3 linked regions of the Homo sapiens genome follow. The protein of the gene in region 3 purifies or fractionates together with the protein of the main gene of each other region. This does not show direct contact. Each region holds a gene or a part of one and is shown on either strand. Other genes may lie near its edges.

Region 1 (4,144 bases), on a different chromosome or scaffold from region 3:
CCGTTTTTCCTCCTGGGATTGGCTTGTTTGCGCCTCTTGCACCGGGGGCCATCCGCCATGATCGGCTGCTTCATTGATAAGAGCGGATCAGATGGCAGTTCGCATGGACTCGGCGCCCTGCTTCGGCAGCACGCAGGCTCGATCTAGCAACCAAACACAGCGACAATGTGGGCATCGCCCGCGCCCATTGAAACGCGCGCGGGCCGCCCAGGGGAGCCGGGCCAGGGCCCCGGCGAGCACCCATCCGCGCCCCCCAACGCCAAAGCGAAACTTCGGCGGCCCCCTCCCCGCCCCCCACCCCCAGCCTTGGCCCCGAGGCGCTTTGTGTTTGTTACTGTTTGGTGTGTTGCACCCGCGAGGGGATCAGAGAGACAAGAATTACATCTTCAAAATGAGTCATAACTCCTGACCGTATGAGGGAATGCACACGGCGGTACAGTAAGACCGCTTGACTCAGGGCTAGGCGGACCCTTTCCTTCGAAAAGTCCTCAGCCCCCGGCTCGGGAACTTGGGGTGAGGCGAGGTTTTCTTTTCGTTCTCATCTTTTCTCATCCCCCCACCCCCCAATTCCCAGAGGAAACAAACAAACAAACAACGCGAAACAGCCCCTGGATGAAGCACACTCGGGCAAATTGATAATAGTAATTATAGGAAGCCCACTCGCCCAGCGCCCCCTCCCCTCCCCTTTTGGAGTTTATCGAGGCACTGTCTCTTCCTCCCCCCACCCTCGCCCCCAAATTAAGATTTCCCGTTTTACGCCGCAATGATAAATATAATTATAAGCCTCTTTGGACACTGTCCTTTACCCCACCCCCCCTCGCCACTTTGACAATATTTACTTAAGTATTTCCCCCCACCTCACTCACACACATGCTCCCCCACACTGGTTCCCTTAAATAGTTCCAGTAGAATTTTTTTTTTCCCTTAAGAAAGGAAAGAGAAAGTCCAACCACTACGGCAATACTTTTAAGCTCTACTAAATGATCGTATCCTTTCTGGCTTCGAAACTTTTGTACCTAAAAATCGAGAGAGGCGCTGCATTTTTTCAGTTGAAACTGTCAAAACTTGGAGAAGGGGGACCTCGGAGGCAGGCAGGAGAGGAGGAGAATCCTGAAAACTCGGTGGAGGTTGGGAAGATGCTGTGCCTCGAGGATTAGTTTAAACAGGGGGCTATAAAAGATGTAACAGATGCAAACTGTAACACAAGGGCCATTAACCCTTTCTCTGCCGGGCACACTCAGTCCCCACGCCCCACACCTATTGTCTCCTGTGCTAGAAGCTTTGCAGAAAACCTGGAAAGTGAGTATCAGTTTCCACACATTTGCTGAGAGGGGTGAAGGGAGGGGGGCAGAGAGAAGGGGAAGTGGATATTTTAGAAAGCACCTTAAATTTACCTAGGCATACATAGTAGGAGACTTTTAAGTTTGACATATTTTATCATTTCTTTCCTTGTCCTATTGATTTGAAATTGTTAGGGGAAATCCTGAAATAAAGAAATGGTCACACAAGTGTCTGGGATGAAACAGCTGGCCTGTCTATATTCATCCTGAGACACACGACTGCATATAAATACATGTTTAATAAAGTAAGTTGCTAGTTTTATGGGCATGTGTGTGTGTGAGAGAGAGAGACAGGGCATTTGTGCTGTAAACTTTATCTTTGCCTGTTACTCCTAAGTCTGGAGTTAGTAATCTTGCCTTCATCATTACAGGGGGAGCATGTAAAATATATCAGTAGGTGGGAGATAAACACATTCATGTTAGCCGGGCTCATCACTGTTCCTGGGAACTCCTGCTATCTCTCTCTCGACTTTTCAGTGCCAAAGTATGGAATGGGATATATGTGTGTATGTGTCTTCTATTAAATCCATGTCTATATTACTTTGCCACTAAAAATACAATTTTAAAAGTTATCCTAATTTAAAACCCTGATATCCTGACAGCAGTTTTCTTCCCAGCTGTAGTGCCCCCCCCTCCACTTTGGTAAACGACTCAAGTTCCATGAGGACTTTCACTTCTTTATTTATAATCACAGAAGTGAGGTGTTACTTCACACACATACACACACAAAGAATGAAATAAAGAAATGAAACTCGCTAAGCAGACAAAAACAGACAACTTTCTGCTTAGAAAACAGCCTTCTCGGTGGGAGAGGATGAACTGCCATGTCTAAGAGAAAGACTTGCCCCCGAATTTGTAGGTCTGTAACTGACCAAGTTTTGTAATTATTAACAGGTATTTGCCAAGTCCTAATTGCTGAATATAATGAATTGGAACTAGATGCGAAAATAGAGCAGGACCTCTCCCCTTGATGAGTTTTTATTCCAGCCATATAATTCTCAATAAAACTTTTCCTGGGCTGGATAGCAAAGGACACCTTTGGTTACCTGAATGAACAGGTACAGGGGAAATTATTTGGGGGAGGGAAAAAGGAGAGAAAAGCAAGGAGAGAGAGTGTGAGTGTAAGAGAAAGCGAAGAAGCCACTCTTGAGAAAAGCTTGCCATAAAGGAGCTAAACCCACCTGAAATTCCTACCCACGGACACCCCTTCTCACTTCAGACTCACATCCCCACTCAAAATGAGAAAATTAGAAAAGGAGGATGGAGGACGAGCACACCAAAAAGGGATAAAAAGAGAGAAAAGGGGAGGAAAAAAAACCTACCTGCGAAGTCTTGTTTGTAGTTTTGGCCAGAAATGGTGAGAAGAAAAAGCATGAAGAAGCCGCGAAGTGTGGGGGAGAAAAAGGTGGAAGCGAAGAAACAGCTCCCGGAGCAAACTGTACAAAAACCTCGCCAAGAGTGTCGGGAGGCAGGACCGTTATTCCTGCAGAGCAGGTTAGAACTGATCTCTTTCGGCCACTCCAGGAAACACAAACCTGGGGACGGACTGACGTGTTACGCCTCTTCTAATGACATTTTTTTCTTTTTCTTTTCTGTAGGAGAGAGACGAGAGACCCTGAAACACGCGCCACCTATCTTTGTGGGGAGGGATAATTGAAGCGCCCTGAGCGTGAGCATCATGTGAAAACGTGATCGCCAAGTTTCTCTCTGGGAAAGGATCTGGGATAGATTATACCTTGAAGTCTCCGCAAACGCTTTAGTGGAAGAAATGAAATTCCACCTCCCTCCCTTCCTCCTCTCCCTCCCTTTCGCCTTCGCCTCCCTCCCCCCTCCCTCCCTTCTCCCCCCCTCCACCCCCCCCTCCCCGCCCGTCAAGCCTTTGGCATCATTATCCTCATCACTAAATCCTACAGAGTACAGGGCGGAAAACGGTGCACACCATTCACAGAACTGGAGAACTCCAAGGGGCGAAAGTTAAAGGGAAAGATCCCGGGTCCTCAATCCAGATAGTCTCTTCTTATACAGATATCTCTAATGACCAGATTTGAGATGCACATCAAATTGTGTAGGTATCTCAGTACAGCTTCTGGAACAAAGTTCTCTGCCCTTTCTCTTATTGTTATTTTTTTCTTTTTAGGTACCAGAGCCAGAAAAAAAAATGCTGCATGGGAGCTGCATCTTAGGGCATGTGTATTAGGGTGTGTGCATGATGAATTTCTGGACTGGATCCCAATATTAAAAAGTAGTTTGGCATTTTAATAAAGGGTCTCTAAGTAAATTAAAATAGAACACTCGGTTGGCCGATCTCTGAATCTCTCTACACCTCGGGGAGACCTCACTACAAAGTAAGGGAGAGTGTGTAGGGAGGCAGGAGGAGAAACGAGAAAGGCCATAGAGAAACTTAGCAGGGAAGGGAGAGCATGATATTAAACGGCATGGGGTCTAAGTTTTGGAGTATATATTTTTTGATATTACAATTAAAGTAAGATTAAAAAGAAAAGACTCCACCTTTGCTCTGAAGGGATTGGTTATGCAAATATGGAAGGGATTTCCTGGAGAATACAGCTTTCTACTGTATGGTTAATTAAATAATCACTCAAAAGCTTCCAACGTGACGCTTCTGTCGTAATCCAATCAGGTTACATAGGTCCTAAACAAGAAAGATATTTTCCACATCTGGAAGTCAGCAATTTAGCAAGTACTGCACATTATTAACCAATTCAGAGCCCACTTCCCAGGGGAATTTTTTTGAAGTTTAAGTGTTCTTAACCAATGCTCTGCTGTTTTGTTAATCAAAAAGCTGG
Region 2 (3,655 bases), on a different chromosome or scaffold from region 3:
GGAAAATAAGCAATTAATAAAAGTTGTTACCTCCAGGGAAGCAAGAGGAGTGGTAGTGAGACATTTCAATATATAACCTTGTATATACTTTGATTTTTGAACCATATGAATGTATTATCTAGTCAAAACAAATTTTTTAACACAGGACTTAAAATGAATTTATTCTAGTGGGATCAACAATTGGAAGTCACAGAAAATGTAGTTTTTTAGAAGTGTTGATTAAATATTGCTACTGTGACAACCACTTTCCCAGACAAGTGAGGTCCAGGAATCAGGGATCTGTGCCAGTGTTGGGTGTTTCAAGAGCCTGGTTTAGATGCGGAAGTGGAGTTCTACTTTCCCATCTACTTCAGGCTGCAAAGAGAACATATTTTGCATAGGTAATAAAGGCAAACTCTCTACGTTCATCAATATCAAGGAGTCAGAAAGAAGGAGACAGTCATTGTGCCTGGGGTGAAGTCTCTTGCCACAGTGTAAGTGCTTCAAGGCTGGCCATAGCAATGGGGTCATTAAAAACAGGGTTTGCCAGAGCCAGAGATCCTGAAGTGTTCAAAATGGCAAACTCTCTAGATTTTGGGAGGCCAAGGTGGGCAGATCACTTGAGGTCAGCAGTTTGAGACCAGCCTGGCCAACATGGTAAAACCCTATCTCTACTAAAAATACAAAAATTAGCCGGGCATGGTGGTGCGTACCTGTAATCCCAGCTACTCAGGAGGTTGAGGCAGGAGAATTGCTTGAACCTTGGAGGCGGAGGTTGCAGTGAGCTGAGATTGTGCCATTGCATTCCAGCCTGGGCAACAGAGCAAGACACTGTCTAAAAAAAAAAAGTTACTAAAGTTATTAGAATGGGTAAGCAGTTTATTTTTCTCTGCCTCATTGATCTATTTATATGTCTGTCTTCCTTACCACATTGTGGGAATTGAAGACATGAACTTTAGCTGTAGTGGAAAAAGCATGGACTTTGCAATCAGGCAGATCTATTTAAGTCCAAACCCCTTCTCTTTCTAGCTATTTGACTTTGGTCATGTTATTTTTATCACACTGAGCCTTGGGTTCTGTGTGCATCATAAAATTGTTCTAAAGATTAAGTGAGAGAAAAACATTTGTATATAATCATCTTGCACATATAAAATATTCAAGGGAAGTTTTGTCTTTCCCTTTTTGCATCTTTCACAGAGCTTTACATTTAAAAGGTATTCAAAATATTTATTAAATTGAATATGTTTCTCTTTACCTGTGAAATCTGAACCCTGTTTAAGGACAGCCTGAGGGAGGCATATTTCTAAGGCTTTTACCTTGAGCAATAATGTCATTGTTGCTAAATATTTTATCAAACAGCTGTCTGTTATGCGCAAAGTGCTGTTTCTGCTTGCTGCTCTGGTCTATCTTTCCTACATATCGTCAGAGTCCAGCTTAAAGCTTTTACTTTGTGAAGTCCTATTTCTTTTTTTCTGTTTACAGGACCTGTTCTCAACTTCAGTTTTTATAAGTGGGCATGACAGTCATTCCCTTATACTCACTACTCTTCAAAAAAAAACCCTCAACCACATACTCTAGGGATGGATAAGTACAGGGATTGTTAAATATCTTTCCTTGTTTTGTCGCCTGTTTCTTGAGCACCAATACAGTGCTAGGGTAGATATAAGCAGTATTAATACATGAGTCCTGCCTCCCAAGGAACAGTTTCTTTAGTAAAAAAGATATGCATGTACAAAAATGTAATTAATTATTTAATGATATGATATTACTTTTGTTTGCTGTTTTACATTTTACCATTTAAAATCCTATTTTTAAAAACACATTCCTGCTTGCAGTCTCTGACAAGAAAGAAAGTAAAACAAAACAAAACAGATATACCTAAGCACATAGAAAAAGGATTGGAAAGATATGCACCAAGATATTGACAGAGCTTATCTCTGAATGCCAGTATTTTGGGTGGTATTTTTTTCTTTCATTTTGCTTACCTGGATTCTCTAGATTTTCAGAAATTTCGTTTTGAAGTTATAAGACATTCATCATTTCCCCCTCCTTGCTAACACAACAGTGACCCCTCTCTTTCTTTTGCATTCAGCTTTTGCGAGAATTGAAGCACCCTAATGTGATTGCATTGCAGAAGGTGTTCCTTTCTCACAGTGACAGGAAGGTATGGCTGCTGTTTGATTATGCAGAGCATGACTTGTGGGTAAGTATAATCTCACTGTATTTCTAGGATTGTTTTATATAGGTATGGAGCATATTTATATAAAATACATATTGTTAATGCACAGAAAGGAAAGCTTGCTCTGTTAGCCATATTTCAAAGTCAATATAAACATAAATGTTGATTTTGAAGAATTTAAGCAATAAACTCACATTTTACTGAGAAGATAGTATTTGTAATATTTAGAAATTTTACTTCAGAAAGATTTTAATGAATGGGAGACTATACTTTTTTTGGCCCGGGGGAGACGAACGGGGAAGGGAGTTTTGCTCTTGTTGCCCAGGCTGGAGTGCAGTGGCACGATCTTGGCTCACTGCAACCTCTGCCTCCCAGGTTCAAGCGATTCTCCTGCCTCAGCCTCTTTAGTAGCTGGGATTATAGGCATGCACCACCATGCCTGGCTAATTTTGTATTTTTAGTAGAGACGGGGTTTCTCCATGTTGGTCAGGCTGGTCTCGAACTCCCAACCTCAGGTAATCTGCTCACCTCGGCCTCCCAAAGTGCTGGAATTACAGGCGTGAGCCACCATGCCTGGCGGGAGACTATACTTTTATGCAAGTAATTAATGGCAGTTTACTAATATGTATAGTGAAGATTGCTTTAAGGATGTTTTTATCAACGTATGAAAGAAGCAAAAAATTCTAATTCCTGTCTTTTCAAATTAGGAATCAGAACATTTAAACACTTTATCTGAGGAACTGCTAAAAGTAACAAACTTCAAATCTGGCACTAAGTTAAAATTATGGATAATTAATTTAGCACCACTATGCCTGGCTAATTTTTCAAAAATGTTTTATAGAGACAAGGTCTTGCCACCTTGCACAAGCTGGTCTTGAACTCCTGGGCTCAAGTGATTTTCCTACTTTGGCCTCTCAAACTGTTGAGATTATAGGCATGAGCCATCACACCCAGCCTTTTTTGTTTGTTTGTTTGTTTGAGACAGGGTCTCGCTCTATCACCCAGGCTGGAGTGCAATGGCACAGTTATGGTTCACTGCACCTTTGACCTCCTGGGCTCAAGCGATCCTCCTGCCTCAGCCTTCCAAGTAGCTGGGACCACAGGTGCATGACCACACCTGACTAATAAATTTTGATTTAATATAATGTGGTTTGTCATCTATATAAGTTATAAATCTGTTGAGGAATAACTTTAACAGACTCAGGTCTTAAAGAAACTTTCAGAGTGTATGCTATTATAGCAGATATGGACAAGAATTTCCAGTGTGTTTTTTTTGTTCAATTCTTTTCATGGATATTCACAGACATTGTATTTTCTCCATTTTTCTATATTCCCCTATATGTCAACCAAGGCTTACTGGACAGTGTATGTACTTTACTTTGAACATCAGTGGGGTGATGAAAGAAGATGATGTTGTACATTGGAATAGTCAGATCCTGTAGAACTGTACTGTCCAATACCATATTTCAAAATAAATATAATCATAAATGTTGATTT
Region 3 (3,014 bases):
TATGTGAAAAGCAGGTTATTAATTAATACACACATACACACATATGCATAACAACATATTATATGATTCCAATTTTGAAAGTATTTAAAAATAATTACATATATTTTTAAAATACAGCAGTTATGTCTAGACAGTAGGGGGGAATGTGGTAATTTTTTTTCATTCTTCCTTGTATTTTCTGCATTTTCCAAATTTTCTACCATGGGAAAAGACAATTTTTTTCCTGGGAGACTGTACTTAGTGTCATTTTCATTATGTCTTATTTTCACAATTTATCTTGTTTCTTCATTTTTGATACCAAATGAACATTAATAGCCCCAACAATGGTGGCTCTAGGGCTGAGGCCTGTTTGCATTTTTTTTGCCAATACGCTCTAAATTGGGAGCAGTCCAATAAACTATGTTGTTGGAACACATGGGAAAAGCCACTGGCAATATCTTACTTAAGTCTAAGAAATGTAAGGCAGGCCTAACTTAGTACACCTAACAACAAAGACATGAAATCCAAAAAGTAAAAAAAAAAAATTCTGTTTATTGTAATAATTAAATAAGAGTAAACATTTTAAAACATATAAAAATAACTTTAAAATATAGTAACACTTTACAAAATATGTATCTAATTAAAAATACATTAACATAGCATCCCTCAAACTATACAAATATAGAATATATATTCATGAAATTCTTTAGAAATATAACATCTATTCTTTGAATAAAGCTTAAAATTTGTTTATAATTTTCAAACTAAGAAAAGAAGTAGTGAATAATAGCTCCATCCAATTTATAATTGTCTTAAAGAGAATGATTATGTATCATTTCTTGCTTGTCTTTTCTAATACCCAGTCAATCACCTAGGGGGAGAAAAAATATGATTACAGAAGATTTCTCTTGAAAACACAAGTAATAGAAAAATATATTGTAAAAACTTCAAAAGAACATGGTAGAAAATTTCAAATAAAAAGGAAGATACTGAAATCTTATACTTAAATACACATTTTATTTTCTAATGGAAGAACATTTTTGTTGGACTTCCAATACTGAGTACAATAATGTTCTCACTGGATGAAATGAAGATTCTGCTCCATTTTCTCACCTTTATATGAAAATATGTTTCAAATGGTCAATCAAATAAACTAAACTAAACTTTGAAAACAGCTAACCAAAATGGATTGGTTTTTCCAGCTAATTTATTTTTTCTTTTGCTTTCTTAGTGTCACTTTAGAAACTCTTTTGCTGACAGAGCAATCTACTAAATACTATGAAATACTCAGCCTAAATAAGCCTATGAAGTTTCTTAAAGAGTTTTCATAGGGACAGAGTTGAAAAAGACCAGTAACTGATTACTGCTGCATATATAATGGCATCAGAGCAACCCTGAAATAAAATACCAATTTAATTGAATATAGTTTCTTGGGAATAATTTCTTTACCTGTACAGCATTGTTGTTTGCTGTTTTCTTCATTTCTTCAAATAGACCCCTTGAAGTTTTAAGATCCTAAACATAATAAAATACAGCATTTTACAATCTGCACATTAAATTACAAAGAACAACTCATTATTATTAAATACACTTGAGATTATTCTAAATCATTCTACACGTATTAATGTGATTAGGGACAGACTACAACAACAAAAAAAATCTAAGTACTAGATTATAATTTAGTTCCATTCTGAAATATCAAAATACTCTAACCAAAATACATACACATATACATAAGTCCATCTCACTCTCCTCTCCTATTCCCAATAGAGCTGACCTAAAATAACTTCCACCCTCCACCGTGAGCATCCACTAATGCTGCATTACTCTCCCATCCTCCACCGTGAGCATCCACTAATGCTGCATTACTCTCCCATCCTCCACCGTGAGCATCCACTAATGCTGCATTACTCTCCCATCCTCCACCGTGAGCATCCACTAATGCTGCATTACTCTCCCATCCTCCACCGTGAGCATCCACTAATGCTGCATTACTCTCCCACCCTCCACCGTGAGCATCCACTAATGCTGCATTACTCTCCCACCCTCCACCGTGAGCATCCACTAATGCTGCATTACTCTCCCACCCTCCACCGTGAGCATCCACTAATGCTGCATTACTCTCCCATCCTCCACCGTGAGCATCCACTAATGCTGCATTACTCTCCCACCCTCCACCGTGAGCATCCACTAATGCTGCATTACTCTCCCACCCTCCACCGTGAGCATCCACTAATGCTGCATTACTCTCCCACCCTCCACCGTGAGCATCCACTAATGCTGCATTACTCTCCCATCCTCCACCGTGAGCATCCACTAATGCTGCATTACTCCAGAAACAAACATATGGTTTGTATTTATTTATCAGGTAAAAGATATTTTTTCTTCATTTTGGCTATTTGACTCCATCATAAAGAAGAATGACATACAAAAGGAAGCTGATGTCTCACTTTTAAAAATTTAGTGATTATTACAAAGTAAAAGAAATGGAATTGTATTTAAAAAGATAAGAAGCAGTTATCTGTTGTACTTCCAAGTTACGCTCCATAAAGGCAGCCACTTTCAATTCTTTCAGGTTTTTCCCTTATTTATACCTTAATGTTTCTAACTACTATGCTTATGTTGCTACTTGGTGATTAAACACTTTTAGACACTGACTACTGATGTTAGGGAGAACTGATGTTAGGGAGAACGTCATGGATGGATTCAGGTCTCGTACACAAAACCTTCCTTCTCTTCCTTTGAAGAACAGTTGTACCACAATTTTTGATTGTAAATAGGCAGTGTTTACACTATTGTATCTATGTAAATACTTTCAATTGTGTGCTAATTAATGTATTATGGTTATAATTTATCTTTCTTCCAATATTCTATTTATCCTGTTAACTACCTGTTAGCTTTTTTCATTTGCTCAGCTTTCCATGTATATAATTCTGGGTTTTTCACTCCTAAATACTGGCAATAAATGGGCTAAATGTACAGCAAAGTTTTTTCAAGCCCTGAAGTATACAGGATAATCTCTCAGTTCAGCTTCC

What was found.
Region 1: the proteins of MTBP (region 3) and ZEB2 purify together in Homo sapiens (co-immunoprecipitation; one large-scale study listed by IntAct). This does not show direct contact.
Region 2: the proteins of MTBP (region 3) and CDK19 purify together in Homo sapiens (affinity purification with western blotting; 2 studies listed by BioGRID and IntAct, with this or other methods). This does not show direct contact.

The regions. Positions count from the first base shown.
Region 1 is NC_000002.12:144,517,277-144,521,420, forward strand, and holds the start of ZEB2 (zinc finger E-box-binding homeobox 2), read right to left. Parts: upstream 2,844-4,144; 5' UTR 2,663-2,843; intron 2,399-2,662; exon of another isoform or gene 2,338-2,398; intron 144-2,337; 5' UTR 75-143; coding exon 2-74; intron 1-1. UniProt on the Homo sapiens protein: Transcriptional inhibitor that binds to DNA sequence 5'-CACCT-3' in different promoters. Represses transcription of E-cadherin. Represses expression of MEOX2.
Region 2 is NC_000006.12:110,668,958-110,672,612, reverse strand, and holds part of CDK19 (cyclin-dependent kinase 19), read left to right. Parts: intron 1-2,071; coding exon 2,072-2,182; intron 2,183-3,655.
Region 3 is NC_000008.11:120,521,134-120,524,147, reverse strand, and holds the end of MTBP (mdm2-binding protein), read right to left. Parts: intron 1,495-3,014; coding exon 1,429-1,494; intron 851-1,428; coding exon 812-850; 3' UTR 512-811; downstream 1-511. UniProt on the Homo sapiens protein: Inhibits cell migration in vitro and suppresses the invasive behavior of tumor cells. May play a role in MDM2-dependent p53/TP53 homeostasis in unstressed cells. Inhibits autoubiquitination of MDM2, thereby enhancing MDM2 stability.